Linked DNA regions of Homo sapiens: region 1 is linked to region 2. Evidence: fine-mapped expression QTL. A gene starts in region 2. The other region holds a variant in brackets. All regions are shown on one strand. Distances are from middle to middle. Region 1 overlaps SLC44A5 (solute carrier family 44 member 5). Region 2 holds the start of SLC44A5 (solute carrier family 44 member 5).

Region 1 (16,448 bases), 140 kb after region 2:
CTGACAATTATGTGTCTTGGAGTTGCTGTTCTCGAGGAGTATCTTTGTGGCGTTCTCTGTATTTCCTGAATCTGAATGTTGGCCTGCCTTGCTAGATTGGGGAAGTTCTCCTGGATAATATCCTGCAGAGTGTTTTCCAACTTGGTTCCATTCTCCCCGTCACTTTCAGGTACACCAGTCAGACGTAGATTTGGTCTTTTCACATAGTCCCATATTTCTTGGAGGCTTTGTTCGTTTCTTTTTATTCTCTTTTCTCTAAACTTCCCTTCTCGTTTCATTTCATTCTTTTCATCTTCCATCACTGATACCCTTTCTTCCAGTTGATCACATCGGCTCCTGAGGCTTCTGCATTCTTCACGTAGTTCTCGAGCCTTGGTTTTCAGCTCCATCAGCTCCTTTAAGCACTTCTCTGTATTGGTTATTCTAGTTATGCATTCATCTAAATTTTTTTCAAAGGTTTTAACTTCTTTGCCTTTGGTTTGAATTTACTCCTGTAACTCGGAGTAGTTTGATCATCTGAAGCCTTCTCTCAACTCGTCAAAGTCATTCTCCGTACAGCTTTGTTCCGTTGCTGGTGAGGAACTGCGTTCCTTTGGAGGAGGAGAGGCGCTCTGCTTCTTAGAGTTTCCAGTTTTTCTGCTCTGTTTTTTCCCCCGTCTTTGTGGTTTTATCTACTTTTAGTCTTTGATGATGGTAATGTACAGATGGGTTTTTGGCGTGGATGTCCTTTCTGTTTGTTAGTTTTCCTTCTAACAGACAGGACCCTCAGCTGCAGGCCTGTTGGAGTTTGCTAGGGGTCCACTCCAGACCCTGTTTGCCTGGGTACCAGCAGCGGTGGCTGCAGAACAGCAGATTTTCATGAACCGCGAACGCTGCTGTCTGATCGTTTCTCTGGAAGTTTTGTCTCAGAGGAGTACCGGGTCCTGTGAGGTGTCAGTCTGCCCCTGCTGGGGGGTGCCTCCCAGTTAGGCTGCTCAGGGGTCAGGGGTCAGGGACCCACTTGAGGAGACAGTCTGCCCATTCTCAGATCTCCAGCTGTGTGCTGGGAGAAGCACTGCTCTCTTCAAAGCTGTCAGACAGGAACATTTAAGTCTGCAGAGGTTACTGCTGTCTTTTTGTTTGTCTGTGCCCTGCCCCCAGAGGTGGAGCCTACAGAGGCAGGCAGGCCTCCTTGAGCTGTGGTGGGCTCCACCCAGTTCGAGCTTCCCTGCTGCTTTGTCTACCTAAGCAAGCCTGGGTAATGGCGGGCGCCCCTCCCGCAGCCTTGCTGCCGCCTTGCAGTTTGATCTCAGACTGCTGTGCTAGCAATCAGCGAGACTCCGTGGGCGTAGGACCCTCCGAGCCAGGTGTGGGATATAATCTCCTGGTGCACTGTTTTTTAAGCCTGTCGGAAAAGCGCAGTATTCAGGTGGGAGTGACCTGATTTTCCAGGTGCCGTCTGTCACCCCTTTCTTTGACTAGGAAAGAGAACTCCCTGACCCCTTGCACTTCCCGAGTGAGGCAATGCCTCGCCCTGCTTCGGCTCGTGCACGGTGCGCTGCACCCACTGTCCTGCGCCCACTGTCTGGCACTCCCTAGTGAGATGAACCCGGTACCTCAGATAGAAATGCAGAAATCACCCATCTTCTGCGTCACTCACGCTGGGAGCTGTAGACCAGAGCTGTTCCTATGCTACCATCTTGGCTGCTCCCCAGTTAGTAGGTAGAATTCTAAATGCTCTACCTTGTTAATCTTGATAACTTTCTATATATATATATATACTTTTTTTTTTGATACAGAATCTCTTTCTGTCTCCCAGGCTGGAGTGCAGTGGCCTGATCTCAGCTCACTGCAACCTCTGCCTCCCGGGTTCAAGCGATTCTCATGCCTCAGCCTCCTGAGTAGTTGGGATTACAGGTGCGCACCACCATTCCCAGCTAATTTTTGTATTTTTAGTAGAGACAGAGCTTCACCATATTGGTCAGGCTGGTCTTTAACTCCTGACCTCATGATCCGCCCACCTCGGCTTCCCGAAGTGCTGGGATTACAGGCATGAACCACCACACCCAGCCACTGAGATATATGTTGTTTTTATCTCCATTTTACAGATGAAGAAATTGGCCCAGGGAGGTTAAATAAGTTCACCACCATCACATAATTAGTAAGTGGTAAAGCTGGGAGTAGGATCTATTTATTTAATCTCTTTAGCCCTCACTCTTAAACACATATACTATATTGCTTCTCTGATTAGAGCTGAGATATTCTGAGCCCTAATTCCTAATCCTGTAATGTTTCCATTATGGGTATTCTCTGAAAGGTTTGGAGATGGCTGAGGGTTATAAGTGAGACATATATATTAGAGTGGCAGTTAAAATAGTGGGAAATGGGAATGAAAGTAAGCTGGTGAAACTGGCAGAATGAAAAGAGGAGCAAGGAGATATTTTAGAAGGAATGTTGGTTTGGAATTCTGGCTGGACAAGTAATAATAAAATATCGGAAGAAAATAGATCTTTCTGAGTAATCAGAGAAATAATACTTGTTCAGAGGAGTTTAAACTCAATCGCTAATTGAGGGTTGGTTCTTCCCAAGAGGAGTAGCAAAACAAGAGGTAATATCAAAGCTCATCTACTGAAATTTCTATCAAATACCTTCCTCATCATTCCTTTCCTTCTTTCGAAATAAATTTTCTATCATGATTGTTATTTGTCTTTTACAAGGTTTCCTCAAATGATATTGGAAGGACATCTAGAAAGAGGACATAAAGGCCACTCTTCTTATTAGGCTTTTGCTGAGCTGTGAATATTTAAGAGATGAGGCGTAAGATCATCATTATTGATGTTATTTTTCCTTATGAGGGGTTCTTTCATAAATGCCACAGAGGGCAAGTGGTAAAGGACATGGAATTCAGGCTCCTCATTTCACTTCCTGCTGATGTGTGAATAACTCAGGGGCGACACACAACGATTTTACTTTATGCCATTTGGCATTTCATTCAGGCAGTTGAATTGTTGCTGCTCTCTTACCAGAGGTCTTAGTAGGGCCATTTTAGTAGACCTGTGCTTTGGAAGAATTCAGAATTACTTGAAAATTCCAGTTACTAACATATGCTTTTTGAAACAAATTATATGAAAAGAGCAGTTATATTGTTTATTATAAAGTTAGCCTAAGTAGAATTTTCTGGATTGTTTTTAAAGGAAGCCCACTCACATCATAATTAAATATGTATTGAAATAAGAGAAATTTGGGGTATAAAATTTTACTAATTATGACTCTGTCTTGTATTGTCATTTTGAAAATGTGTTTGAGCCACATAATTCTATGCCCCACAAAGAAAACTTCCAATTAACTTGGACTACTAATTGGCAATAACAAAACAAAACATCCTTGTGTAACATTACACGTAAATGTCTTACTATCAAGATTAGCTAATGACCTATATCTTAATTTTATGAATGACAATAACTCCACTATATTGATTATCAATCCAGAAAATGTTAAAGTCAGAGGAGAATATTGGCATTGAGGTGTGAATTTGAAAGCATTAGTATTATAAGATTGAAAGTAGTGTTCTCGTGAATGAATGTAAGTATATATAGAGATAATTATCCTGGGAACATGTTTAATTTAGCTTTAGTATGCAGTGTTAAATGACTTTATTTAATAATAAAACAGAATGAATCTAGTAAGTTTAGACTGGACAAATTTACTATCGACAGTAAGTGCCTAGGAATTGACAGAAGGTGCAGACTGTATGACAAAGAAATCTAAATATTCTTAGAAGTTCCTTCTTTTTTTATTTTTCAGATTGTTGCCATTCCCCATCTCCTGCCTTGAATCTTAGAATGAAATCTGTTATTGACAGTGAACTAATTTAATGAAGCAGTGTTAAATATTCAATGAAGCAGCAAATCTGCTCACATTTTTATTAACATATATTTTTGAAGAAACAAAGCAAGTCTACAGGCATAAAACAATGTTATGTCTATATGTCATGTATGTGCAGGTATTGAATCAGGACTAAAATATCTCTGATATTCTATGACACCACCACACTACAGAGCCACAGAGCTCATATTTAGAAGATTCATTATATTACTTAGTACTAAATATACTGCCACCAGCTAGGCTGGACAAATTTGCTATTGGACAAAGTTGGAAAAGGCCACAACAGAGGAAAAAATTATTTTCTTATTTATAAAGAAAGGGAATTTATAAAATTATGGAAAGAACATAAAAAATAAGGCTAGAGTCAAGAAAAAGCACTTGTAAAATAAGATGCTGATTATAGTGCTAGAATTAGAGAAGCTGATACAATAGGGAAAGTCATCTGTAAAAGTATTATCTCTTGAAATTAAACATAGAAATGTGAATAAGAAAACATCTATGTGTGAATGGATTTTGAGTGGGGCAGATAAGTGTTTTTAGCAAAGAACAGCGCAAATCAAGTACCCCCAAATTCTGCAAGAAACAAACAAAACCCCATCGCCTACCTCACCAAAAATTGTCTGACACAGTTGGGCTAAATCCATGTCATCAACTTAGAATTTGCTTTGGAAACCAGCAAGTGAAGTTGAGTCATATTTTCAGAGGCTTCCTCTTCCTCTTTGGAAAATCATCAACACATTTTCATCTTGTAAGCTATGTTTTTTTTCTTTTATAACCAGCATTGATTTTAAAAGCTTTATCCAATTCTTGGTTCTTGAATGTCCCTGAAGATATTTTTGAAGGATTATGCAAAGTGTTGCTCCCTCTGGAACTCCCATGTAGGCCCTGGAGATGTTGGGAAATGCTTGTGAGTAATTTTCATGCATAAAAAAGGACACTTAGCTGAATGCTAGATTGTAATTCAATCAGGAAGTTCCGATGACATTCTAAAACTGTACAGTCTGAATGCTTTATGAATAATACCACATTGCCAACACTGAATTACAGCTAGTATTTTTACACGAGGACTAGGAATACTAGCAACATAAAACAGTTTTATAGCCAGTTACCTTTGAGGTTGAGGGAGATGACAATTCATCACACAGAAGTCTTTAGTGCATCCCACAAAGATTATAATATGTGTAAGAGTGAAGGCTTGCCACTTGTTAGTCTATGAGAAGGATTTAAGTATAGAGGACACGGTGGTCTGCAAAACATTATAGGACTTGTGAAATGAGGACAGGGCTGCAATGCTTTTGAGGACACTCGGGTTGCCAGAAACACAAATCCTAGTCCTCATAAATACCACATTTGTGCTTTAATCATAAAAATTCTATTGAGACTAACCTTTCAGTGAGGGAATATTATCTAAAGAGAGCACAGTCATTTCAGCTGCTAAATGAAAAACTTGTATTTTATAAGCCTAGAAAAAAGTGAGTTGAATGTTATCATAAGATAACACATGGTCTTGAGGCACCCTGGGGCGCTGATATCTCACTTCACAGCGCAAGCTCAAAACACTCCTAGCTTGCTTAATAATTGTCAAAGTTATTTTAATTTGAACCATAACCAATTATTTATGTAAAAGAACTGTAAGAATGATAGTAGGAGAGCAAGAACATGAAAATTTATTTTTTTTCAGGCTTGTTGAGATTAATGAACCCTCAAAGATGTTATTAACTTTGCAGAATGGGTACCACATCTAAACAGCTATGCATTTCAAAATACCTTGGCTTTCTTCTCAAAAGAAAGAATTAAGTTGATACTCATGACTGAATCAGAAAGGTACTACTGACAGGTGCTCGGCACACTTTCCCCTGCATGACTCACCCTAAAGATACCTTATTTTTTCCATGAAGCCTTTTTATTCTCATATTTTTCTTTGGTCTTGTTTGAAAGCTCTATTCCCAGTGGCTTGAGAGAAGAAGAATAAACACCCAGGCCCCAGTAGTTTTTTTTTTTTTTTTAAACCCAGGGGGATATGCTCTGCCTATTGTCCTGAACACTAGCCAAAATCCTACTAAAATACAATATCTAGTATTGCCAAATCCTGCTTAGAGAGACATGAGAAACCTGAGAGTTCCTTCCATGGCTTGCCACAAAACAGATTATGGGTCTGGAAAATAAAAATAACCAGGAAGTGGCATTATAAATATAGATCAGAGAAAAAAAAGCCTTAGTGGTTCCTTGTTCATGGTCCTTAGGAATGTGCAGAAGTTTTGGACAGAGGATACAAACTAGCTTATTTGATCTTCTCTAGGCATAGGTAGAATAAGAGTAAATGCCCATAAGAAACTACACAAAGGGTTTAGAGACTGAGCTAAGAAAAAGCTGCCAGTCTGGAGTCAGTAGAAGAAAATTAAGAAATAGAGGGCAGTGGAATGCCAGAGAGAGGAAATACTTTGAACACATTAGCAAAGGAAAAATAGAAAAAAAATCATATTTGGAGAAGAGACATGAGCTCTGCCCGCATTCTCTTGAGATCTTTTGCTTGATTGAGGGCATGGGCTTTCCCCCTGCCATGATTGAGATAAAAGGCTATGATCAGGTAGAGGCAGTGCTTTGGAAGCTGCTTATGTCATTCCTCCCTCCTTTTCTTTTGTCCTGGTTCTGATTTAATTCATGGGTGTGTGTGTGTGTACGTGTGTGTGTGTGTGTGTGTGTGTGTTTTCATGCACACAAGCTTATGTATTAGATGGAGAGGGATTTGAAATTTTTCCTTGTTGAAAGGAAGGCTTCAAATGAAACAGCAATCCATCTCGCAGGAAAATTCCCATCCTGGGGATTCCCTTCAAGGCAGAAATTCAAGCAATGATGAGAAAGGTGCCCTTAGACTTGCCCAGTAATGAGATGTTACAAGCCATTAATTTTATGAAACTCCAAAGAAACACAGCCAGGCCGTAAAAAAAAGGTTAAAAAATAGATCTTCAACGAATCACTGAGAAAATACTAACTTTCCAAGTCCAGGGAATAAATTTGTCTGAGCCCTCTATTTTTCCCTCTCTGCATTATATTTGAAGATAGTTGTGTTTTGTTAGCTTTTTCATTTACCCCCAAAATACTTGCAAAATGCTTTAGTTTTAGAATTTTCATGTAATTGAGGAGTTAGAAACCCACCAAAGGTAGGGAGTCAAAGCAGAAACAGTTACTCAGATGCCTCTGGTAGCTATCCATTGTTCTAGAGAACAAGTCCATACTCGTAGCTTAAAAGGGATGGCAGGATGGCACTCTTATTTAACTCCTTACCCACATCTCTCCACCTGGACAGCCCCTCCCAACCCTCCCACCATACTTATCTCAGTTTTTCGACATGCCATGCCAGGTCACGCTTCTCTCTGGCCTTGGACATTCCATTTCCTCTGCTTCAAATTCCTTTCACTAGGCTAACACCTACTCATGGTGTAGGTTTAGCTTAGACTTCACTTTCTTCAGGAAGCTGACGCCAGTAACATTCCCTCCCCCTCACGTCTGGGTTATGGCCCCTCCTGCGTGCTTCCATTATACCTTCCCTATCTTGGTAGTCTTCACACTATATAATAATTTAGATGCCTATTTACTTGGCTGTAGTAGTCCTCACTAGACTATAAATTCTACCGTTATGTTACAGAAGAGCTCATACAACATAAACTACCTTTTGTGGAAGGATTATTTCAAACGTGGGGACCTAATTTTAGCTGTGGCAGTACGTGAGGAACATTTATAAGGTAGGGCACAACTGTACATTCACTTGGTTTCTCTTGAGTGCTCATTCTCTTCCATCTTTGAGTATGTTTTTTACTGCTGTTTTAAAGTATAGCCCTAGGGTTCTTGAAAACCAAAGCTTTTAGCTTCACGTGTAGACTTCATTCAATTTTTTTAAAAAGTATTGTCTTGAGGATTGATTGGTTTGAAAGCTTGGTTGTTATGAAAAGCTCTTATCTTTCCAGGGTTATTCCTTAGTTGCTCTTACAGAAACACCAAAACTGTAGGAATATCTTTAATATGCTGTCAAATAGAAAGGTTGGTGATAAATACTTGCCTCTAAAGAATGTTTTAGGAGCTTAGGAAATATGCAAGTCATCCGTGAAGCCCTCCTCCCTTTGAACTGCAATTTTTTATTATGGGAGTCAGGATACGTTGACTCTACTTTTTTTTTTTTTTTTTTTTTTTTCTTCACAAGGTCTCTCTCTGTCGCCCAGGCTGGAGTGCAGTGGTGTGATTATAGCTCACTGTAACCTCGAATTCCTGGGCTTAAATGATCCTCCCACCTCAGCTTCCTGAGTAGCTAGGACTACAGGCATACACCACCATGCCCAGATAATATTTACTTATCGTTCAGACAGCGTCTTGCTATGTCTCCCGTTGGTCTCAAGCAATCCTTCTGCCTCACCTCCCAGAAGGCTGGAATTACAGGCATAAGCCACTGTGCTCAGTCTGACTCTACTTTTTGTCTCAAAGCCAGGACACCTTATCCCAATGGCATAATATTTTTATTCCATTATACGCCGTACCATTTTAGTGATTTTTTCCCCTAAGTTCTACACACACTGGTTTCAGAATGATATTGCCAAAAGGAAAGAAGAAGAAATTCACTACACTTTTTTTTTTCTGGGAATGCTAGTAAAATCTGCATCTAAATTATATAAATGGTATTATTGTCTTCTTAAGTGGCACATGGTGTTACAGCTCACGCTTATTATGTCATCATTTACCTTTCATAAGTATTTTCAACATTCTTTTATCAATCAGTTAGTCTTCAACTGTGCTGTCCAAGATGGTAGCCTCTTTTCACATGAAGCTATTGAGCACCTGAAATGTGGCTAGTCTGAATTGAGATGAGCTGTAAATGTAAAATACAGACCAGCCTTCAAAGACTTGGTTAAAACAAAAAGGATTCAAAATATCTCATTTTTATCTCAAATAAATGAATTTATATTGATTACATGTTGAAATGATAATCTGAATATATTGGGTTGAGTAAAAGGCATTATTAAAATTAATTTCATCTGTTTCTTTTTACCTTTTTAATGCAGCTACTAAAAAATTAAAACTTGCATACCTGGCATGCAATATATATACATTTTTAATTTTTCATTTTAATTTTTGTGGGTACATAGCAGGTGTATATATTTATGAGGTACATGAGATATTTTGATGCAGGTATGCAATGTATAATAATCACATCATGTAAAATGGGTGTATCCATCCCCTCAAACATTTATCTCTTGGGTCACTAATAATCAAATTATGCTCTTCTTGTTATTTTTACATGTACAATTAAATTATCATTGACTATAGTCACCCTGTTGTGCTGTCAAATACTAAGTCTAATTCATTCTTTCTATTTTTTTTGTACCCATTAACCATCCCCACATCCCCCAAACCCCATTGCTGCCTTTCCCAGCCTGTGGTAACCATCCTTCTCCTCTCTATCAACATGAGTTCAATTATTTTGATTTTTAGTTTCCACAAATAAGTGAGAACATGGAATGTTTGTCTTTCTGTGCCTGGCTTATTTCACTTAGCATAATGACCTCCAATTTCATCCATGTTGTTGCATATGACAGGCTCTAGTTCTTTTCTATGGCTGAATAGTACTACATGGTGTATAATATGATGTTTTCTTTATTTACTCATTTGTTGATGAACACTTAGGTTGCTTCCAAATTTTGGCTATCGTGAAGAGCGCTACAACAAACATGGGAATGCAGATATCTCTTTGATACACTGATCTTTTTTCTTTTGGGTGTATACCCAGCAGTAGGATTCCTGGATCATATAGTATCTCTAGTTTTAATTTTTTGAGGAATCTCAAAACTGTTCTCCATAGTAGTTGCACTGATTTACATTCCCACCAACAGTGTATGAAAGTTCCCTTTTCTCCTCTCCTTTCCAGCATTTGTTTTTGCCTGTCTTTTGGACATAAGCCATTTTAACCGGGATGAGATGATATCTTATTGTAGTTTGACTTGCATTCCTCTGATAATCAATGGTGTTGAAAACCTTGTTATATGCCTTTTGTATGCCTTTTTTTTGAGAAATGTCTATTCAAATCTTTTGTT[C/T]ATCTTTTGATTGGATTATTAGATTTTTTTCCTATAGAGTTGAGTTCCTTATGTATTCTGGTTATGAATCTCTTGTCGTATGGTTGTTTGCAAATATTTTCTCCCATTTTGTGAGTTGTCTCTTCACTTTGTTGATTGTTTCTTTGTTGTGCAGAACTTTTTAACTTAATGTTATCTCATTTGTCCATTTTTGCTTTGATTGCCTGCACTTGTGGGGTATTACTCAAGAAATTCTTGCCCAGAACAATGTCCTGGAGAGTTTCCCTGAAGTTTTCTTTTAGTAATTTCATAGATTGAAGTCTTAGATTTACACCTTCAATCCATTTTGATTTAGTTTTTGTATATGGCGAGAGATAGGCATCTACTTTCGTTCTTCTGCATATAGATAACCTGTTTTCCCAGCATCATTTATCGAAGAGACTGTCTTTTCCTCAGTGTATGTTCTTGGCACCTTTATTGAAAATGAGTTCACTGTAGGTGTGTAGATTTATTTCTGTGTTCTCTATTCTGTTCCATTGGTCTATGTGTCTGTTTCTATGTCACTATCAAGCTGTTTTTGGTTTCTATAGCTCCATAGTATAATTTGCAATTAGGTAATTTGATTTCTTCAATTTTGTTCTTTTTGCTTGGGATAGCTTTGGTTATTCTGGGTCCTCTGTGGTTCCATATAAATTTTAGGATTGTTTTTTCTATTTCTGTGGAGAATATCATTGGTATTTTGATAGTGATTGAATTGAATCTGTAGCTTGCTTTGGGTAGTATGGACATTTTAACAACATTGATTCTTTCAGTATATGAACCTGGAATATTTATCTATTTCTTGGTGTCCTCTTAAATTTCTTTCATCAGTGTTTCATAGTTTTCATTATAGAGGTCTTTCAGTTCTTTAGTTCATTCCTAGGTATTTAGTTTAATTTGTGGCTATTGTACATGGGATTACTTTTTAAATTTCTTTTTTCAGATTGTTTATTATTGGCATATAGAAATGTTACCGATTTTCGTACGTTGATTTTGTATCTTGCAACTTTACTGAATTTGTTGATCAATTCTAATAGTTTTTTGTGCAGTGTAGGTTTTTCCAAATACAAAATCATATCATCTGCAAATAGGACAATTTGACTTCTTCCTTTCCAATTTGGATGCTCTTTATTTCTTTGTCTCATTGCTCTAACTAGGAATTTCAGTACTATGTTGAATAACAGTGGTGAAAGTGGGTATCCTTGGCATGTTCCAGATCTTAGAGGAAAGGCTTTCAGTTTTTCCCCATTCAGTATGATAATAGCTATGAATCTGTTATATATGGCTTTTATTCTATTGAGGTATGTTCCTTCTTTTTTTTTTTTTTTTTTTTTTTAAGATGGCATCTTGAACTGTCACCCAGGCTGGAGTGCAGTGGCACAATCTCGGCTCACTGCCACCTCCACCTTCCAGGTTCAAGCAATTCTCCTGCTTTGGCCCCCCAAGTAGCTGGGATTACAGGCACCTGCCACCACGCCCAGCTAACTTTTTGTATTTTTAGTAGAGACAGGGTTTCACTATGTTGGCCAGGCTGGTCTCAAACTCCTGACCTCGTGATCCGCCCACCTCGGCCTGCCAAAGTGCTGGGATTACAGGCATGAGCCACCACACCCGGCCAGTGTGTTCTTTCTATTTCTAGTTGTTTGAGGATTTTTATCATGAAGGATGTTGAAATTTATCAAATGCTTTTTCAGCATCAATTGAAATGATCATATGGGTTTTGTCCTTCATTCTGTTAATATGATATATCACATGGATTGGCTTACGTATGTTGAACCATCCTTGCATCTCAGGGATAAATCCCATTTGGTCATGACAAATGGCCTTTTAAATGTATTGTTGAATTTGGTTTGCTAGTATTTTGTTGAAGATATTTGTGTCAATATTCATCAGAGATATTGGCATGTAGTTTCCTTTTTTTGATGTCTCTTTTTCTGATTTGGATATAAGAGTAATACTGGCCTCGTAGAATGAGTTTGGAAGTATGCTCTCATCCTCTAATTTTGGAATAGTTTGAGGAAAATCGATATTAGCTTTTCTTTGAATGTTTGTAGAATTCAGCAGTGAAGCCATTGGGTGCTGGTCTTTTCTTTACTGGAAGACTTTATAACAGCTTCAATCTTGTTACTTGTTATTGGTCTATTCAGGTTTTGGATTTTTTCCTGGTTCAATCTTGGTAGTTTGCATGTGTCTAGGAGTTTGTCCATTTCTTCTAGATTTTTTAATTTATTGGCATATAGTTGCTCATAGTAGCCACTAAGGATCTTTTGAATTTCTTCAGTATCAGTTGTAATATCTCCTTTTTCATTTCTGATTTTATTTATTTGGGTCTTCTCTCTTTTTTTCTTAGTCTGGATAAAGGTTTGTCTATTTTGTTTATGTTTTTTAAAACCAACTTTTTGTTTTATTGATCTTTTGTATTGTTTTCTTCATCTCAATTTCCTTTATTTCTGCTCTGATTTTTATTATTTCTTTTCGTCTACTAATTTTGGTTTTGGTTTGCTCTTGCCTTTCTAGTTCTTTAAGATGCATTGTTAGGTTGTTTGAAGTTTTTCTTCTTTTTTTGGGTAGGTATGTATGAGTACTGCTTTTGCTATATCCCATAGGTTTTGGCATGTTGTTTCCATTATCATTCGTTTCAAGAAATTTTCAGTGTTCTTAATTTCTTCATTGGCCCAATTTCCTTCTTAATGTCTTCATTGACCCATATCCAGGAGCATATTGTTTAATTTCCATGCATTTGTATAGTTTCCAAGATTCTTCTTGTTGTTGATTTCTAGTTTTATTCCATTGTGTACAGAGAAGATGACTGATATTATTTCATTTAAAAATATTTTAAGACTAGTTTTGTGACCTAACATAAGGTCTGTCATTGAGAATGATCCATGTGCTGATGAACAAAAAATGTGTATTCTGTAGCTCTTGGATAAAATGTTCTGTAAATATCTATTAGATCCATTTGGTCTATAGTGCAGATGAAGTATGATGTTTCTTTGTTGATTTTCTGTCTAGAATATCTGTCCAAGGCTGAAAGTGAGGTGTTAAAGTTTCCAGCTATTATTGTATATTGTACTGGGGCCTCTCTCTTTCTTTAGCTGTAATAATATTTGCTTTATGTATCTGGGTGCTCCAGTGTTGGGTGCATATATATTTAAAATTGTTATATTCTCTAGCTGAATTGACTCCTTTATCATTATACAGAGACCTTTGTCTCTTCATATAGTTTTTGTCTTGAAATCTATTTTGTCTGATACAAGCATAGTGACTCCTGCTGTCTTTTGGTTTCCAATAGCATGGGATATCTTTTCCCATCCCTTTATTTTCAGTTTATGTGTGTATTTTTTGTAGGCAACAGGTTATTACTTCTTTTTTTTCCCATCCATTCAGTCAGTATATTTTGACTGAAGAGTTTAGTCCATTTACATTCAACGTTATTATTAATAAATAAGGACTTCTGTCATTTTGTTCTATGTTTTCTGCTTGTTTTGTGGTCTTTTCTTCCCTTTCCTTCCTTTTAATGAAGGCGATTTTCTCTGGTGATGTGATTTAATTTCTTGCTTATTTTTTGTGTATCCATTGTATGTTTTCTGGTTTGAGGTTACCATGAGGCTTGCAAATACTATCTTATAACTCATATTTTAAGCTGATACCAACACTGTTTCATAAACAAACAAGCAAAAAGAAAACAAATAAAGACTCTATGCCTTAGCTTTGTCCTCCTGCTTTTTACCTTTTTCTTCTTTCTTGCTTTTTTTTTTTTTTTTTTTTTTGAGACAGAGTCTCACTCTGTCGCCCAGGCTGGAGTGCAGTGGTGCAATCTCGGTTCACTGCAACCTCCACCTTCCAGGTTCAAGTGATTCTCCTGCCTCAGCCTCCCGAGTAGCTAGGACTACAGGTGCATGCCACCATGCCCAGCTAATTTTTTGTGCTTTTAGTAGAGATGGGATTTCACCATGTTAGCCAGGATGATCTTGATTTCCTGACCTCATAAACCTCCTGCCTTGGCCTCTCAAAGTGCTGGGATTACAGGCATGAGCCACTGCGCCCGGCCTCTTGTTTCTATTTATATCTTATTGTGCTATGTCTCAAAAAGTTGTTATTGTTTTTGTTTGGTTCATTGTTTAGGCTTTCTACTTAGGATAACAGTAGTTTACACACCACAGTTACAGTGTTGTAATATTCTGTGTTTTTCTGTGTACTTACTATTACCAGTGAGTTTTGTAACTTCAGATGATTTCTTATTACTAATTAACATTCCTTTCTTTCTAAGTGAAGTACTCCCTTTAACATTTCTTGCAGGATGAGTCTAGTATTGATGAAATCCCTCAGCTTTTGTTTGTCTGGGGAAGTCTTTATTTCTCCTTTATGTTTGAAGGATATTTTCACCAGATATATACTATTCTAGGGTAAAAATTTTTTCCTTTATTGCTTTAAATATATCATGCACTCTTTCCTGGCCTGTAAGATTTCCACTGAAAAATCTGCTGCCCGACATATTGGAGCTCCATTGTACGTTATTTGTTTCTTTTCTGTTGTTGCTTTTAGGATCTTTTTTTTTTTTTTTTTTTTTTTGAGACAGAGTCCCGCTCTTTAGCCCAGGCTGGAGTGCAGTGGCACAATCTCGGCTCACTGCAAGCTCCGCCTCCCAGGTTCACGCCATTCTCCTGCCTCAGCCTCCCGAGTAGCTGGGACTACAGGCGCCTGCCACCGCGCCCAGCTAATTTTTGTATTTTTAGTAGAGACGGGGTTTCACCGTGTTAGCCAAGATGGTCTCGATCTCCTGACCTTGTGATCCGCCTGCCTCGGCCTTCCAAAGTACTGGGATTACAGGCGTGAGCCACCGTGCCCAGCCAGGATCTTTTTTTATTAATCCTTGATCTTTGGGAATTTGATTGTTAAATGCCTTGAGACAGACTTCTTTGGGTTAAATCTGCTTGATGTTCTATAACCTTCTTGTCCTTGAATATTGATATCTTTCTCCAGGTTTGGGAAGTTCTCTGTCATTTTCCCTTTGAATAAACTTTCTACTCCTATTCCTTTCTCTACCTTCTCTTTAAAGCCAATAACTATTAGATTTGCCCTCTTGAAGCTATTTTCTAGATATCGCAGGTGTGCTTCATTTTTTTAAAAAAATTCTGTTTTCTTTTGTCTCTTCTATGTATTTTCAAATAGCCTGTCTTCAAGCTCACTAATTCATTCTTCTGCTTGATCATTTCTGTTATTAAAAGACTGTGATGCATCCTTCAGTATGTCAATTGCACTTTTCAGCTCCAGAATTTCTGCTTGATTCTTTTTAATTATTTCAATCTCTTTGTTAAATTTTTTCTGATAGCATTTTGAATTCCTTCTCTGCGTTATCTTGAATTTCATTGCATTTCCTCAAAACAGCTTTTGAATTCTTTGTCTGAAAGGTCGCATATCTGTTTCTCCAGGACTGGTCCCTGATGCGTTATTTAGTTCATTTGGTGATGTTGTGTTTTCATGGATTGTCTTCATTCTTGCAGATGTTCATCTGTGTCTGGGCATTGAAGAGTTAAGTATTTATTCTAGTCTTCTCAGTGTGGGCTTTCTTGTACCAGTCTTTCTTGGGAGGGCTTTCCAGGTATTCTAAAAGACGTAAGTGTTGTGATCTAAGCTGTATTTGTTTTAGGGGGTACCCAAAGTCCAGTAACACTGTGGTTCTTGCAGACGTGTAGAGGTGCCACCTTGATGTTCTTGGACAAGCACTGGGAGAATTCTTTGGATTACCAGGCAGACTCTTGTTCTCTTCCCTTACTTTCTCCCAAACAAACAGAGTTTATATCTTTGTTCTGAGTCAACTGGAGATGGGGGTGGAGTGACATAAGCACCCTTTGGCTACTACCGCTAGGAATGTCCTGGGTCAGACCTGAAGCCAGCACAGCACTGGGTCTTGCCCAAGGCCTGCTTAACTACTCCCTGGCTATGGCCTATGTTTGCTCAGTGCCATAGGGCTCTACAGTCAGCAGGTGGCAAAGTCAGCCAGGCCTGCGTCCTTCCCTGCAGGATTGTGATTTTCTCCAGGACCCAGGAGGGTCCATAGGTGTTGTTTGGGAGCCAGGAACTAGAGTCAAAAACCTTAAAAGGCCATCTGATGTTCTATTGTACTTTCCATTTTTCCCTCCCCTTTCCAAAGGCAGAGGAGTCTTATCCCATACCCACCACCACTCCAGGCCATGAGGAGTACTGGCAGATTACTACCAATGTTCCCCCTAAGGCCCAAGGGCTTTTTAGTCAGCTTATTGTGAATGCTGCCTGGCCTTGGACTCACTCTTTAGGGTAGTAGGCACTCCTCTGGCCGAGAGCAGTTTCAGAAATGCTATCCAAGGGTTTGCTTTGTATTTTTATTGGACAGTGCTGGCCTAGACAGTAACTCAATAATGAGAATTTTATGTTTTCTTTTGCTAGGAAAGAGCTATTTAGTCACCGTGGCTAGCAAAATTTGGTGACTTGGTTGACTTGGACAAA
Region 2 (16,448 bases):
GCTGACTAGTGGTACACACCCTCTCAGTTCTCTACAGTCCCCTTCCCTTGGTCAAGTACATCTATACAGCAACGCACTGCATAATGATATTTCAGTCAATGATGGACTGAATATATGACAGTGGTCCCATAAATTCATAATACTGCATTTTTACAGCACCTTTTCTTTCTTCCTTCCTTTGTTCCTTCCTCCCTTCCTCCCTCCCTCCCTCCTGCTCTCCGTCCCTTTCTTCCTTCCTTCTCCCTTCCTTCCTTCCTTCCATCCTCCCTGTCTCACTCCCTGTCTCACTCCCTGCCTCCTTCCCGCTCTCCCTTCCTCCCTCCCCTTCTTCCTTCCTTCCTTCTTTCCTTCCCCCCCCCCTTTTTTTTTGAGACAGAGTTTCGCTCTTGTTGCCCAGACTGGAGTGCAATGGTGCAGTCTCGGCTCACTGCAACCTCCACATCCCAGGTTCAAGCGATTCTCCTGTCTCAGCCTCCCAAGTAACTGGGATTACAGGTACCTGCCACCACACCCAGCTAATTTTTGTATTTTTTGTGGAGATGGGGTTTCACCATGTTGGCCAGGCTGGTCGTGAACTCCTGACCACAGGTGGTCCACCCATCTCAGCCTCCCAAAGTGCTAGGATTACAGGCTGAGCCACCATGCCCAGCCTTTTATGGCACCTTTTCTATGTTTGGATATGTTTGGATACACAAATACTTAGCATTGTTTTACAATTGCCTATAATATTCAGTATAGTAACATCTTACACAGGTTTGTAGCTGAGGAGCAATGGATTATACCACATAGCCTAAGTGTATAGTAGGCTATACCATGTATGTTTGTTTAAGTATACTTTATGGTGTTTGCACAAGGATGAAATCACCTAAAGACACATTTCTCAGAATGTATTTCTGTTGTTAAGCAATGCATGACTGTATATTTATACTGATGGTGTCATGTATTCTGTCTTACTGTTCCCTGCAGTCATTCTAATTGCAACCCTTGAACAAAAACACACAGTGTGGGCTATAGGGGAAACACTTGGCCTGGAAATCCAGGGCCTGGGTAGTTGTGGCCTTAATGTCTTTTGGTCTCAGTTTCCTCATCTGTTCAGCAGGGCTGAATAAACCTCTTTTGATGATCTTATGTGATTGTCATGACCTTAATTGAGATAATGCATGTAAGGACACTTTGAAGTGCTAACAGTGTAAAAGCATATTAATCACATCCATGTACCAAAAATAGTCCTAACTAGTCAACTAAATTTGAGTCTCCTCTGTTGAGAATAGTACTGACATTGTGGAAGGAATAAATTAGAAAAAGGAAACCATTCCTGGTCTGAAGCAGAAATATTCTATTTCACATAGGCAGCTAGTGTTGTGGAGAGAGCTGGGTATTGAGTTAAAAGAGTTACACCGAAGCTGTGGGCAAGTTATCATACCTCCACGAATCCCATTTCACCGTCTGTAAAACCTAGAAGACAGGACCTGCTTTTCAACTCATGGGTGTGGTCATGATTAAATGAAATAAAGTATGTGAAAGTAATGAATAAACAGAAAAACATTATTCTAATATAGGCAATAATTAGTAGTTGGTGATAAAATATGAGCACATAAAATGGACTGAAATATTTACAAAGTCTAATATTATACACAGTAAACATTTGAAGACCTAGAAGAGTAGTTTTTAATTAAATAAGAGGCAGCTGTTTGGAAGAGGAAAACTTTGAGTCAGTCTTATTTCTGATCATAAGTCTGAGAATGGGTCTATTTTGCTTATTAAAAGAAACATGTTCTTTGTTTTTTATTTCTGATGCACATCTTCATTGTGAGAGGAATTGGTCATTTCACATGTTTCTAGATTATTTACTTCAATATATTACATTATATGAAGCTATATTTAGAAGGGCTGAAAAAATAACTTGTGATGATTTTGTCACTAATATCTCAGGAGCTGGAAGAAATTTTTGAGATGATATCGCACATATCAGAAAACAGAAGAGCAGAGAGATTGAGTGACTTGTCCAAATTCTCAGAGCTACGAAGTTACAGGGCCAGAATTCACAATTGGGGTTTTTGACTTCACTGTTCTTTTTGCCGCACCACACTAGTACTGGGGCAACTTCTGGGTGGAGATATTGAATTAACTCACTGAATGTTTAGACAATCAGATTGGGCTGGGAACTGTACTAACCTAGGAGGAGGAAAGGAGAAGTGTTAAGAAGGTCACTGCGAATTAGGAAGTGCGTTTCGGCGGCAATCTCAGCTGCAGCATATAAAAAAAATTCGATATTGTAGCCTCTTCCCACAGTGGCACACCCTGGTAACCTCTCCCTACCCTACCCTTTAAGCGTTTCTTTTTAAGGTCCGATACTCCTTTATATTCTTAAACTTTCGCCTGCCCTTGCAGTTCTGGGACGCCAGCAGAACTTCTTTTCATCCCTTATCAGCACGCGAGGGGAGGACAGCTCCTCCAGGAACATGAGAACTTTCCAAAGCAAACCCCCAATCAGAGAGAGAAAGAACGTGGCCACTGTAACCAAGTTTCTGCTGGAGGCCAAGAAATCACACCTCCGGCTTCCAATTCCTCCAACATCTGAGAGCGTGAACTTCCCTCTTTTCCCACAGCCCCAAGGGAACTATCCTGGGCCCTCACTATTAAGAACTTCAGGGCCAGAACACAGCCATTCTTGCAGGTGTCTGCCCGTGGGCTGCCTCTGGAATTCCATTTCTCTCCCCTCCATCAGACTCCTGTTTCCCTCTCCCCTCTTTCCTTCTCGGTTCGGGAGGGGCAGAGGCAACCGCGCGCTTCGGGGCTCATCGCCCGCGTGGAATTCGGGCTCGCTATCCTCGAGGAGGCTGTGGAGGAGGACGGCTCCTGGGCCGGGTCGCAAGGGACAGTGCCGTCCTCCCGCAGGTGGCCAGAGTTCTGGTTGGCCTGTGAAGACGGGTGTCTTTCTTGGGCCCAGCGCGTCCTGGCCTTTTGAGAGGGGGCTTCGAAGGCCCAGAGGAAGGCAGGCCGGAGGCAGACTCCATCAGACTCTGCCTGGCTTTCTCCTTCCCGGCCCCAGATGGCCGCGGTCTCTCCGCGCCCCCCAGCAGCTCCCCGCCGCCGCCACCGTTGTCTTTCCAGTAGAGGCTGCTGGATGACGGCGCGGTAGCCGGTTGGATGGGGGCTGGCGGCTCAGACGGGACACCGGGGGTGGGGGCGTGGGGGAGGGAGGGTGTGGAGAAGGGGGAGGTCAGCGCTGGGCGGGCGCTCAGGGGACCCAGCGCTGCCCCCTCCAGCAGCAGGAGCAGCACAGCAGCCGCCGCCGCCGCAGCAGCCACCGCGTCCACAGCAGCGCAAGAGGGGGGCCAGCGGCGCGGCCGAGAGCAGAGGGGCGGCGGCGCCCGCCCCAGCCGAGCCGAGCCGAGCTGAGCGCGCAGCCCGGCCGCCGCTGCTGCTCGCAGATGCCATCACAGCAACAAAGAGCTCGCTGAGCTGAGAGCCGCGGCGAGGGCTCGCCTGGGAGCTGCGCGGCAGCCGGAGGAAGCGCGTGGGGGGTCCGGGGGAGGGAAGGGGACAGAAGATGGCCAAGAAGAGAAAGCCCCCCAGCATCAAGGGTGAGTCCCGCTCCCTCCTCCCCTCGCCGCCTCCCCTCTCTCACCCGCCCTCTGCCCCTCGGGCCGGCCTGTTTACATCCAGGCGCGGCCAAGTGGAAGGCTCCTGCCGGGGAAGAGTTTGCCGTGTCCGGGGAGGGGGTGGGGGAAACCGCGGCGCCGCTGCACCTCCCCTGGCCTCCGGGGACACTGACAGGAGTTTGTGCCCCTTTTGCAACCTGGGGAAACCTGGAGACTCCTCTCTCACCCCACCCCTTTGCTACTCGGCGAGCTTGGGTATCTATCTGTTGCACCTCCTAGCCTCTGGGCAGTGGGGAGAGAAGCGACTGGGCTCCTAGCATCTTGTCTTTTCCGGAATCTCTCTCTCTCTCCCTCTCGTGTGTGTGTGTGTGTGTGTGTGTGTGTGTGTGTGTGTGTGTATGTATGTGTGTGTGTGTGTAAGAGAGAGAGAGAGTTTTTCATGGTCTCTTCTATTCTTTTCTTCCAATCCCCCCTCCCTCCGCCCCTTCGTCCCTAGGGTGACAAGTTCTGCATCCATTTCCCCAACCTCCATCCTCAGGAGGAGATTGGAGCTGGCTGCCTCTCCTTTTCCCTGCGGTCAAGGGGACTTGCTACCGGCCGAGTCCCTGCAGGCTACTTCCTGCTCCCCAACCTGTCGAGACGGGCAGTGGCTCCGGCTAAGCAGTCTCCCTGTTGCTCCTTTGGAACCCGGGCTTCCAAAGTTGGAAAGTTCGCGGAGAGAAGCGATGGCGGGGAGGACAAGGAAGAGCTTGTTGCTGGGGTGACGAGGCATTGCGGCGTGGTCCGGGGCGCGACTCGGGAGGGAGCCTCCTGGGCTGCGTCTTGCCTAGGGGTCGCAGAGCCGGCGCGCGGGGAGCAGGTGCAAGCCACCCGCTCCCGCAGCGCGGACTCGCAGAGGTCGCAGCTTGTCGGCTCCCTAGCTCTCGCTGGGGGACTCGCAGAGCCCTAGAGGTTGTCTGCAGCACTGCAGAGAGGTGGAAGTGGGCTCGACACCATGCGCGGTGAGGAAGGCTGTGCGCGGGGGAACTGGACCTGAGGATGGTGGCAAGGAAGGGGCGTCGTTCGAAGTTGGATTTCAACACAATGGGCCCAATGACCTGGGAGGCAGCGACTTACTGAGCCTTTGGGGTTATATAAAAAAGGACAGGAACTCAGATGAGAACTGAGGGGTGAAGGGTATTACTGAATACATTGGCTTGGACTACAGCAGCGCTCAGGCTTTGGCGTGCTTTTTGCTTTTCCTCCCAAGTCTGGCTTGTGGGAGCTTAGCTCCGCTCTAGAGGTCACTAGGGGGACACAACTTTATCTTGGCGCGTCAGCTTGCTTTTTAATTGCTCCGGAGTACTCAAAGCACTTACTGGAAAGCGTTTAAAATCATGATCCTTAATTCTTAAGAAGACATTACTATGAAAACACCTGGGACTTTTTGTTGTTAAAAATTATAACCTATGTATGACAATTTTATTGCAATGCCTTTTCTTAAAATATTATAGCTCCTGTAAAATTAGAGGGGCTTTAAACCTCTGATTCCCCCCCTCCATAAATTAGCGCATGGGTATAGAGATACACGAGTAAAGAAAGAAGAGAGAATATATTCACCTACAAACAGATTCCTCTCTTTATCATAATATCAAATAATTAGTCTAAGCCCAGATTGACAAGGCGTATGAGCTACACTTTTGGTTCGCTCCTTTTTTATGGAGCCATATGGCACGATGAGTGAAACAGAAGGATTGGTTTTCAGCACTGCTGATGTGGCTATCCATTGGCAGAAATACATTTCATTCCCACCCCAAACCTTGCAGATTGTAAATGGTCCATGAAGAGTGGAAAAAATTTTACAGTTTTACAGTACATGGTAGCCAGAGAAAATCTTACCCTTGAAATTAATAATCTTGGCAGAAGCACAAAAAGATACAATTAGATTGATGAAATGAGCTCATATAAGAGATTTGATGAAAAAGACACCTCCCCTTTATTCTTCCGTCCCCTCAAAACACCAAAAAGTTTTTGTTTTGTAGGTCAGTATGGAATCATTTGTATTTTCTTGAATAAGTTTAATTTGATAGTGAAATAATTGAAGAATAGCAGTTAAGTGTTAACAGTTTCTCTGGAAGGATTAATAATCAAGCTTTCTTACGACATGTGGTCTCAATAAATTTTATGTAGTACTTTAAAAATAAGGTTTTCTCATGCTACATGTTTTTCTTAAAGGAAAAGTTATGTTACTTAGCTCCTATCAACTTGTGTTGAGTTGTTCTTGTTTTTTAAAACAAGTTCATTTAGTATTTCACAGAAAGAAGGACACCTTTAAAAACAAATCCTTGGAGTTTCACTTTAGCGAAGCAGGATGAATTGTGATATTTGATAGATGACAGAAGCAAACCCAGAAAGTTGTAATCTATTGACTTGCCTCAATTTTGCCTTTTAAGAGGAGAGCTCTACAAAAGCATCTGACTGCAGGCTTGCTGAACTGCTCTCAGATGTCTGCTTCTAAGCTACAACCAACTAAACTGGGACTGCCTGGTAGGAAAAATTTCTAGGCTTTATTGGCAGGGGCAGGCTACTGGGGTGAACTTTGCTGGATAAAACACTGTAGATTTAGCAATATTCCATGCTGTGTTGGTTATTCTCTTACAAGAGCTGCTTCTCTGCTTAGCTACACCGCATGCAGGGAGAGATCATTCGTCGGATCTTGTGACAGGCAAGTTGCTCATTGGCTTCTGAAGTCCTAGCAAGAGAGACTATCCATAAGCCTAGAAATTGGCCAAAGAGAAATGCAGTTTCTTAACATTGATAGAAGAATAAGATCTGTTGGCAGGATTTCTCAAGGGACATTAGCATTCATTTGTGACATCTCATCAAAAGGACAGTCTTTCAGAAAGGCCAATGGAATCTTTTACAATCCAATATTGATAATGTTTTTAACGAAAAAATGCTATAGTTCATAATCAATACAAGTCTTATAAATGCAAGCTGGTTACATTGGTTATAATCACGTCACCACCCCCACCCCTGCCTTTTCCAATATTAGTACAACAAAGACTTCTTGCTCAATTACTTAAGTGTAAAACTTATGTTTAGGTTAATTTATTCATTTATTCATTTAGCACATATTTATTGAGCACTGAATATGTACCAGATTCTGTGCAAAACACTAGGGATACGGTAATGAACATGATAGACAATGAAGTAAGAGGAGGCCTGGAAGAAGCAGGTGACAAATAATATGAACCAGAAAATTTCACATAGTGATTAATACCAGGAGAAATAAAACAAAGTGATGTGCGAGCAAATGATTTTGAGGTTACTTTAGATTGTCTGGAAAGGTGGCATTTGTGTCGGGAAACAAGTGATGAAGAGTAATTTGCATGCCAAGAACTGGAACATAACACTTCAGGCCTTAAGGTAGAAATGAGGTGGTAGCTTGGCACATTCACATACAAAAGGAAGAGGTGTAATGTGTAAGGAAGAGACAGTTAGGGAGAAGCCAGGCCTTTTTGGTCATAAAAAGGAATATAGAGTTTAAGTGCAATGAGAAGCCATTGGATATTCACTTGCTATTTGGGGATACATTCCTCTCCTGGAAGATTATTTCAGGGAGAGGAGCATTCCTACATCAACTCCCTAGGCCAACTAAGGTGACCTAATAGACTTCACTTTTCTAAAAGGTCCAGTTATACTCACGTTATTTTCTCTTGCTATTCACCAGAATACCTATGCAATTTCAGGCTGAGATATTGATAGCATCTCTAGGAATCCCTGCTTAGAAAACAATTCTAGAGAGAATGAGGATTAATTTAACATTTAGTACAAGATGATAAGATTAGTCACTTCCCTGGCAAGCCTTTCAATGCAAGTAAGTCTTAGGAAAAACATATTGTAATGGTAGAGGGGGATTCTGAGGGGTCCAGAACATGACTGTGCAGTAGGCAGAATGTGGAAGGCAGCATGAGGGGCTCCTAGATAACAGAAAGGGGTCCACAGAAGGAGAAGAGTGATGTTTGGAAGGGGACATGAGAAAGCCTCTAAAACAACATCAGCCAATTCGTGATTTTGCCAAGTGGAAGCCTGATATGAGCATGTTCCAAGAGAAACATTCTCATTCAAACACAGAAAAAGTTTAAACCAGGGTACTTTTATGCTTTTGACTGATCTTTTTATAATGAAGCATTTGTAACAATAAAAGCACACAGATGTTTACAAAGTCTCTTTGATTTTACTTAATCACTGTCAGGTTGTTCTGATGGATTACAGACCTCACAAATGAAAATAGCATGAACATATTAATGATAACTGCTGTTTGTTGGAGGTAGTTGCTTGATAGCTAGTTAAGGAAATCATGCTCTTGGGTCTCATTTTACTGTAGAGATGTTGGTAAGTGGGATATGGGGTATATTGGATGATTTTCTTTCCCCTAAGCATTTGTGACAAGAAGGTGCTATGATATTCAGGAAAGACACAAATAATAGTAGATTATTTTAAAGGTAATCATGGCCTACTTCCACCTCCAAACTACCTACTTCTTTGCCAAGGATTAACAATGAAAAAATATACTATAGCTCCAGGACTTTGTTCAGTCTCCTCCCCCTCTTTATACTCCAAGTGACTCCTTTGAGGCTAGCAAGGCTAGTAGGACCTCAGGGATTACCTAAGAATGGGGTATGGCCCTTAGTGATACTGGAACACAATGTGTTTATGACATCAGCTTTTTTTTCACAGTAGTGAATCGTAGCATGTTAGAGTTAGAAGGTTCAGTGTTGATGGAGTTATTGAAGAAATGATGGAGTAAGAGGTGAGTGATACTGCTAAATGCAAGAAGTCTATGTCTGTAGGAAAATTGGTCAAGTTTGTTATTCATAAGTACGTATTCTATACAACTCAAGAAATACACACACACACACACATATATATAGTGAAGTCTGAATATAAATTAGGAACTGAGCACTTCCTCTCCGTGTGTGTGTGTGTATATATATAGATATCCTGGGGGATTATTTAAAGAGAGTAGTATTTTTACATCAGCTCCCTAGGCCAAGTAAGGTGACCCAATGGACTTCACTTTTCTAAAAAGTCCAGTTACACTTATGTATCTTCTCTTAATATTCACCAAAATATCGACAATATTTCGGGCTGAGATGTTGATAACATCTCTAGGAATCCTTACCTACTGGTATTCACACCTGTTCATACTCCCCTTCCAAAATGAATCACAGCTGACCATGTGATCAGTACTGTACAGCAGAAAACTACATCATAAAGACATACACTATGGCTTCTGCCTTGTTCTTTTGTATTCTTTGCTTTCTTATGTTGCTCATTTTGGGGAAACCAGATGCCATGTTTTAAAAATACTCAAGGATCCCTTGGATTATTTTTTGAAGCAGAGGTTCATACAGATATTATTAACATTTCAGCCCAAAATATTGTCGGTATTTTGATGAATAGTAAGAGAAGATACATAAGTATAACTGCACTTTTTAGAAAAGTGAAGTCCATTGGGTCACCTTACTTGGCCTAGGGAGCTGATGTAGAAATATTGCTCTCTCTAAATAATTCTCCAGGATATCTATGTGTATATAGGTATATGTATGTATATGTATATACCTATGGAGAGAGAAGAAGAGCTCAGTTCCTAATTTATATTCAGACTTCACTATGTGTGTGTGTGTGTGTGTGTGTGTGTGTGTGTGTGTGTATTTCTTGACTTGCATAGAAGTCTTGAATCTTAGCTCTGTGTGGGAAGAACTGAGGCCTCCTGCTAATAGCAACAACTTGCTAGTTATGTGAGTGATCTATCTTGGGAACAGACCCTGCAACCAAGTCAAGCCTTCAGATGACTGTAGCTTCAGCCAACATCTGACTGAATTTCATGATAGCCCCGACCCAGAGCTATCCAATCAAGCTGCTTCTGGATTCCTGAATCACAGAAACCATAAGATATAATAAATGCTTACTCTTGTCTTAAACCACTAAAATTTGGGGGTAATAGGTTACATAACATTAGATCATGAATATACCTGTGGTTCATTATTTTTGCACCTCTATCATGAAATGTAATATTTGTTACTAGTTCCAACACTGATCTTGAATCTTAGCCCTCTTTCCTATTTAGTGAATTGGGCTGAAACCCTGAAGTTCTCTTTTCTTGTTTCCCTTGAGTTTCTTGTAGCAGCTTGCTTTCTCCTCTGCTTTTTTGAGTACTGATTCCTGGCTCCTCTAGTTCATTTAGTTTAGAAGATACTTTCCAAATTGAAGCACTACCGAACCAAAAATCAGAGTGATAAAGAGAATACAAAAGCCCTAAAATCTCCCAACAGCACAAGATTTCACAGTCCTCCAAACTAAGAAGATAGAAAGTTTCTTAAAATCTACAATCTTTTATTCTCACCATCAAAAATAAGAATGTAAGGTAATGAATATGTTAAATAGCTTGATTTAGCCATTCCACAATGTGTATATATATCAAAACATCAGGTTTCACACCATAAATATATAAATTTTTACTTGCCAATTAAAAAAGAAAAAACCCAAAGAAATGAAACCCTAAAATATTCAAATAAAAACCTTTCCAGCTGTATTTATCTATTCCTCCTTACCAAAGAATCCCTTCCTCCTCCCAGCCCAGTTAGTCCTTTGAGGTATAAATAGGAGACTGAGAAAGAGGATTTAAGAAAGGAAGGTTGCCGTCTCTTCTACTTGAGAGTAGGATATTAATCTATTTTATTCGTTCATGTAGTTCTCTATTCATTCAATAAGTGTTAATCAATCGCTTACTATGTACTGGGCACTATTCTAAGCATGCTTGGGATAAATCAGGGAACAAAATGAATTCTTCATGAGGTTTACACTATACATAGGGAAGACAAACAATGAATAATAAGCATGAATACATTGTTGATATTAAAAATTGAAAAGTGCCATGACAGAAAGAAAAAAAAATGAGCATAGTAAGGGGGATTTGGATTGCTAATCATGGGATGATGGTGGGCCAGCTGCAAGTATTAATAGGGTGGTTAGGGTAGGACCAATTGACGAGGTAATATTGAAGGACATGAAGCAGTGGAAGGGGAGGAGACTTCCAGAAGGAAGGAAAAGCCAGAGCAAAGACCCTACAGTGAAAATATACCTGGTATGTTTGACTAACAGAAAGAAGACCAAGTGGAATTAGTAAGGGGGATAGAAATAGAAAATGAAGTCAGAAAGATGAGGGAAGACTAAATTATATTAAACTTTTTAGAAAGTTTTAAGACTTTGGTTTTTACTCTGGGGAAATGTGGCACCAGTTCAGATTTTGAACAGAGGAAAAATATGATCTGACTTACATTTTAAAATAATTGCTACGGCGACTGTGTTGAGAATATCGAGCCAATATGTAGGGGTAATGAGAAACTAGAAGACTAGTAAGGAATCTTTTGCAATAACTCTTTAAAAATTTTCTTCTTCTGGTGGCTGAATAATACTCCATTGTGTACACACACAACACACACACACACACACACATACCCCTCACATTTTGTTTATCCATTCATCTGTGGATAGACACGTAGGTTGATTCCATATCTTTTTCTCTGGAAAAATATATTTTCAGTTCCTTTGCCTATTTTTAAGTTGGGTTATTTGTTTTTTTTTGTTTTTTGTTTTGTTTTGTTTTGTTTTTGCTATTGACTTACAACAACATGGATAAACCTGGAGGACTTTATACTAAGTGAAATCAACCAGGCACAAAAAGAAAAATACTGTATGATCTCACTTATATGTGGAATCCAAAATTATTGAACTCATAGAAGCAGTGAGTAGAATGGTGGTTGCCAAAGGCTGGGGGAGTGGGAGAAGTGAGGAGATACTAGTCAAACAGTACAAACTTACAGTTATAAGACAAGTTCTGGGGACATAATATACAGCATAGATAGTGATGGATATTGTATTAGTTTGTTTTCATGCTGCTAATGAAGACATACCCAAGATTGGGTAACTTATAAAGGAAAGAGGTTTAATTGACTCACAGTTCCACATGGCTGGTGAGGCCTCACCATCATGGCAGAAGGTGAATGAGGAACAAAGTCACATCTTACATGGCAGCATGCAAGATAGCATGTACAGGGGAACTCCCCTTTATAAAACCATCAGATCTCATGAGACTTACTATCATGAAAACAGCATGGCAAAGACCCACCCCCATGATTCAATTACCTCCCACTGGGTCCCTCCCATGACATGTGGGAATTATGGGAGTTACAATTCAAGATGAGATTTGGGTGGGGACACAGCCCAAACTATGTCAGATGTGTTATTAAATTTGGTTGTAATAATTATTTATTATACAACGTGTACATATACCAAATCATCATGTTGTACACTTTGAATACATACAGTCTTTATTTGTCAATTAATATTTTAAAATAAAAAGTTGCTTATAAAAAATAATTCAGTTGAGAGATGATAGTGGCATCTATCAGGGTAGAAGCAGTGGTGAACATGAGAAATGGAAGGATACTGAATATATTTTTAAGGTAGAACTTATATAATTTTAAAAACTAACAGGATGTTTCATGTGAGAGAAAGAAAGGAGTGATGGATTAATGCACAGTTTTTGACCTAAACAACTAAGAGAAGGTGGACTTGGCATCAACTACTATTTGAAGATTGTAGAAGGGGCAAGTTTATGGGGAAGGATCAGAAGTTTAGTTTTGGACACATTTGGGTTTGAAATATTTATTTGATATACAAGTGAAGATGACAAGTAGGAAGCTGGATATGTAAGTCTGGAGTCTTGGAGAGAGGCTTGGGCTGATCATATGAATTTGGAATTCATCAGAACATTGGTGGTATTTAAGATCACAGACTGGAAGACTCACTGGGAATTGAGTATAGATTGAGAGAAATGATCTGAGCCCAGGGCTGCTCCATTATTAAGAGATAAGTGAGAAGGGGAGGAGTCAGTAAAGGAGATTGAGAAAGAGCAACTGGTGACTAAGAAGTGGGTGTGGGGTCTTGGAACCAAGGAAGAAAGTGTATCAAGGAGGAAAATGATAATCAACAGTGTCAAACGCTGCCCATAGGTCAGGTAAGATCAGGGTTGAGAAATGGCCATTGTATTTATTAATATGAAAGTCATTGAAGACCTTAATTAATTAATATGAAAGTCAAAGACAGCCCAGGTGAAGTGGTGGCAATGATGCTTTGAGTGAAGTGGGTTAAGAGAGAATGAAGAGGAGGAAAATTAAAGACAGCACAGTTAACTGTTTTGAAGGGTTTTGCTTTAAAGGGAGCAAAGAAATGATATGGCTGGGGATGGGAGTTGTGGAGTTGAAAAAAGATTTGCTTTTTTAAGATGGAAGAATAATAGTGGGTTTTATTCCTTGTTGTTTGTTACTATCTGTGTATTGAGGTGGGTTTTAACCTCTCTTTTACTATTTTAAATTTTGGGTGCTTTTTATGACAGTTTCCTATGGAGGTAAGATGAATTAATGTAGAATGGTCTTATGTTGCCTAGTTCTAAGGATGTTTCTCTTTTATCTTCTTTTACGTCTTTAAATGTATTATCTTTAAGAAATATTAAATGGAGTATTAAGAGAGGTATAGAAATGGATTTTCTGACAAAATAATAAAATATGCCATAGTAGGAAAAAGTTTCCAGAAGACAAGAGTTTGCCAGTCATCTTGTTGCTGACTGTGGCAGTCCATTCCCTCACTTGAAAGGATCTTAAAGAACTAAAGAAAAATTAAAAAAAAAAATTGTGCGGGAACTAGCCTAATGCTTCTCAACCAGGGGCAATTTTACAGTGTCTGGAGATATTTTGATTGTCATGACTGGAGTGGCGCTGGTGGCATCCAGTGGGTAGAGACCAGGGATGCTACTAACATTCTATAATGTACCTCCTCACAACAAAAGATTACCTAGTGCAAATTGTCAATGTTGCCAAGGCTGAGAAGCTATGGGCTAGCCCTATCATCTTTCCTTTCTTCCAGAGAGAAGCTAGGAAGCTGCTTCTGAAAAAGGGATCCGGAAGCAGGAGCTTTCCCTATCCCATTGTTCTGTGTTTAGATGAGACACAGCTTTTAAATAAATGATTAGGGTTCAAAATAAAGACATTTCTTTTTTGCCTTTGCTTTCTCTTTACCCCCTTCTGTGGATTCCCATAGTATAATCGAATTTTATAACTTTTGGTAGTTTCCCATTAGGGCCCATGACAGAGGAACATTAAAGTCATGGTGAAAAATTCCTCATTCAGTTGAGAAACCACAATTTCACATTGCTGATTTCTATTCTGCATCTGTCTGACAACTTAGTGAAGGAAAGGATGAAGAATAGGGTGATTTGTTAAGCTCTGACTCTACAAATCACTATAGCTTTTTAATATGAAAGGAGGGGTGGCCTCTCAGGCATCTTTTTTTGTAGCTTTTTTGGGCCATTAGGATTTTGGATGAGAGCTGCATTGTTTATTTATTTATTTTTATTTTTTCTCCACCTTCTCATTCTTAATAACTCTACCTTCAATATGTGCCTTATCTTTTAAGAAAGGCTCTGAAGAAACTCAGAACAGGTCCTAAGTGCTTGTTGAATGAAAATTTTCTTGTAGAATCAAAAATTTAAAACCCAATTTTAAAAGAAGCAATTTTAAATTCATAGTTTTTAAAAACTTAAAAGGCAGGTTTTTAAATGTAAATTTGCTAGTTCTCTGGATTGTCTTTCAGTGTTCAAAGTCAAAGACAAAAATCAGGCTTTCAAATTGACATTTTAGGAAGCATCCCCCTTGAGAACTGGAACAAGACAAGGATGCCCACTCTTCCCACTCCTGTTGAACACAGTACCGGAAGTGCAAGCCAGAGCAATCAGGCAAGAGAAAGAAAGAAAAGGCATCCAAATAGGAAAAGAAGAAGTCAAACTATCTCTCCTAGGAATCCCTAAAGACTGCCAAAGACTTTTGGAACTGAAAAATGACTTCAGTAAAGTGTCAGGATACAAAATCAATGTACAAAAATCAGTACCATATCTTTACACCAATAATGTTCAAGCTGAGAGCCAAATGAAGAACATAGCCTAATTTACAGTACACACACACATACACACACACCCCTTGGTTTCACCTCTAACCAAGGAAGTAAAAGGTCTCTACAAAGAAAACTACAAAACGCTGCTGAAATAAATCATAGATGACAGAAACAAATGGAAAAACATTCCATGATCATGGATTGGAAGAATAATAAAATGGTCAAACTCCCCAAAGCAATCTACAGATTCAATGCTATTTCTATGAAGCTACCAATGGCATTTTTCACAGAATCAGAAAAAACTATTCTAAAATTCATATGGAAGTAATAAAGTAATAAAGAGCCCAAATAGGCAAAGTAATCCCAAGAAAAAAGAACAAAGCCAGAAGCATCACATTACCTGGCTTCAAACTATATTGTAAGGCTACAGTAAGCAAAACAGCATGGTACTGGTACAAAAACAGACACATAGACCAATGGAACAGAAGAAAGAACCCAGAAATAAAGCTGCATTCCTATAGCCAGCTGACCTTCAACAAAGTAAACCAAAATCAGCAATGGGGAAAGGACTCTCTACTCAATAAATGGTGCTGGGATAACTGGCTATCCATATGCAGAAGAATGAAACTGGACCCCTACCTTGTTTGATATGGAAAAATTAACTCAAGATGGATCAGAGAATTAAATGTAAGACTTCAAACTATAAGAATCTTAGAAGAAAACATAGGAAACACCATTCTGGACATTGACTTTGGGAAAAATTTATGACTAAGTCCTCAAAAGCAATGACAACAAAAGCAAAAATTGCAAGTGAGACCTAATTAAACTGAGTAGCTTTTGCACAACAAAAGAAACTATCAACAGAGTAAACAGACAACCTACAGAGTGGGAGAAAATATTCACAAACTGTGCATCTGACAGAGGTCTAATATCTAGAATCTATAAGGAACTTAAACAATTGAACAAGTAAAACACCAATAACCCCATTAAAAATAGGCAAAAGAAAGACATGAATGGACAGTTCTCAAAAGAAGACATACAATTAAAAAAAAGAAGACATACAAGCAGCAAAAAAAAAAAAAAAAACATGAAAAAATGCTCCACATCACTAATTACCAGAGAAAGGCAAATCAAAAATCACGAGATACCATCTCATATAAGTCAGAATAACTATTATTAAAATTTAAAAATATTTGGGTGAGGCTGCAGAGAAATGGGAATGCTTATAAGCATATATACACTGTTGGGAATGTAAATTAGTTCAGTCACTGTGGAAAGCAGTTTGGAGGTCTCTCAGAGAGCTTAAAACAGAACTACCACTTGACCCAGCAATCCCACTACTGGGCATATATCCTCAAAAAACAAATTATTCTACCAGAAAGACACATGCACCCGCATGTTAATTGCAGCACTATTCACAATAGCAAAGACATGGAATCAACCTAGGTGCCCATCAACAGTGAATTGGATGAAAAAAAAAAAGGTACAAATACACTATGGAATACTATATAGCCAAAAAAAGAACAAAATCATTTCCTTTGCAGCAACATGGATGCAGTTAGAAGCCATTATCCTAAATGGATTAATGCAGTATCAGAAAATCAGATACCACATGTTCTCGCTTATAAGTGGGAGCTAAACAACAGGTACTAATAGACATAAAGATGGCAACAATTGATACTGGGACTGCTAGAGTGGAGAGGGAGGTTGGGGGAAAGGGTTGACAAATGAACTGTGGGGTACTATGCTCAGTACCTAGGTGACAGGATCAACTGTACTCCAAACCTTATCATTACACAATATAACCAGGTAACAATGTGTATATGTACCCCCTGAATCTAAAATAAA

The links. PIP is the estimated chance that this variant, and not a neighbour inherited with it, causes the effect.
Region 1: its variant is fine-mapped to the expression of SLC44A5 in whole blood (TOPMed, PIP 0.96).

What each region holds. Positions count from the first base shown.
Region 1 is chr1:75,461,506-75,477,953 of GRCh38, reverse strand. All of the region lies in intron 2 of SLC44A5 (solute carrier family 44 member 5), which reads left to right. Among named protein-coding and RNA genes, the nearest start is that of SLC44A5, 140 kb to the left of the region's middle. RefSeq lists an enhancer at 844-1,344. The variant C/T (reference allele first, on the strand shown) is at 9,945.
Region 2 is chr1:75,602,992-75,619,439 of GRCh38, reverse strand. SLC44A5 (solute carrier family 44 member 5) reads left to right here and starts at 8,326. Exons shown (of 24, transcript NM_001130058.2): 1 at 8,326-8,400. RefSeq lists a silencer at 3,278-3,497.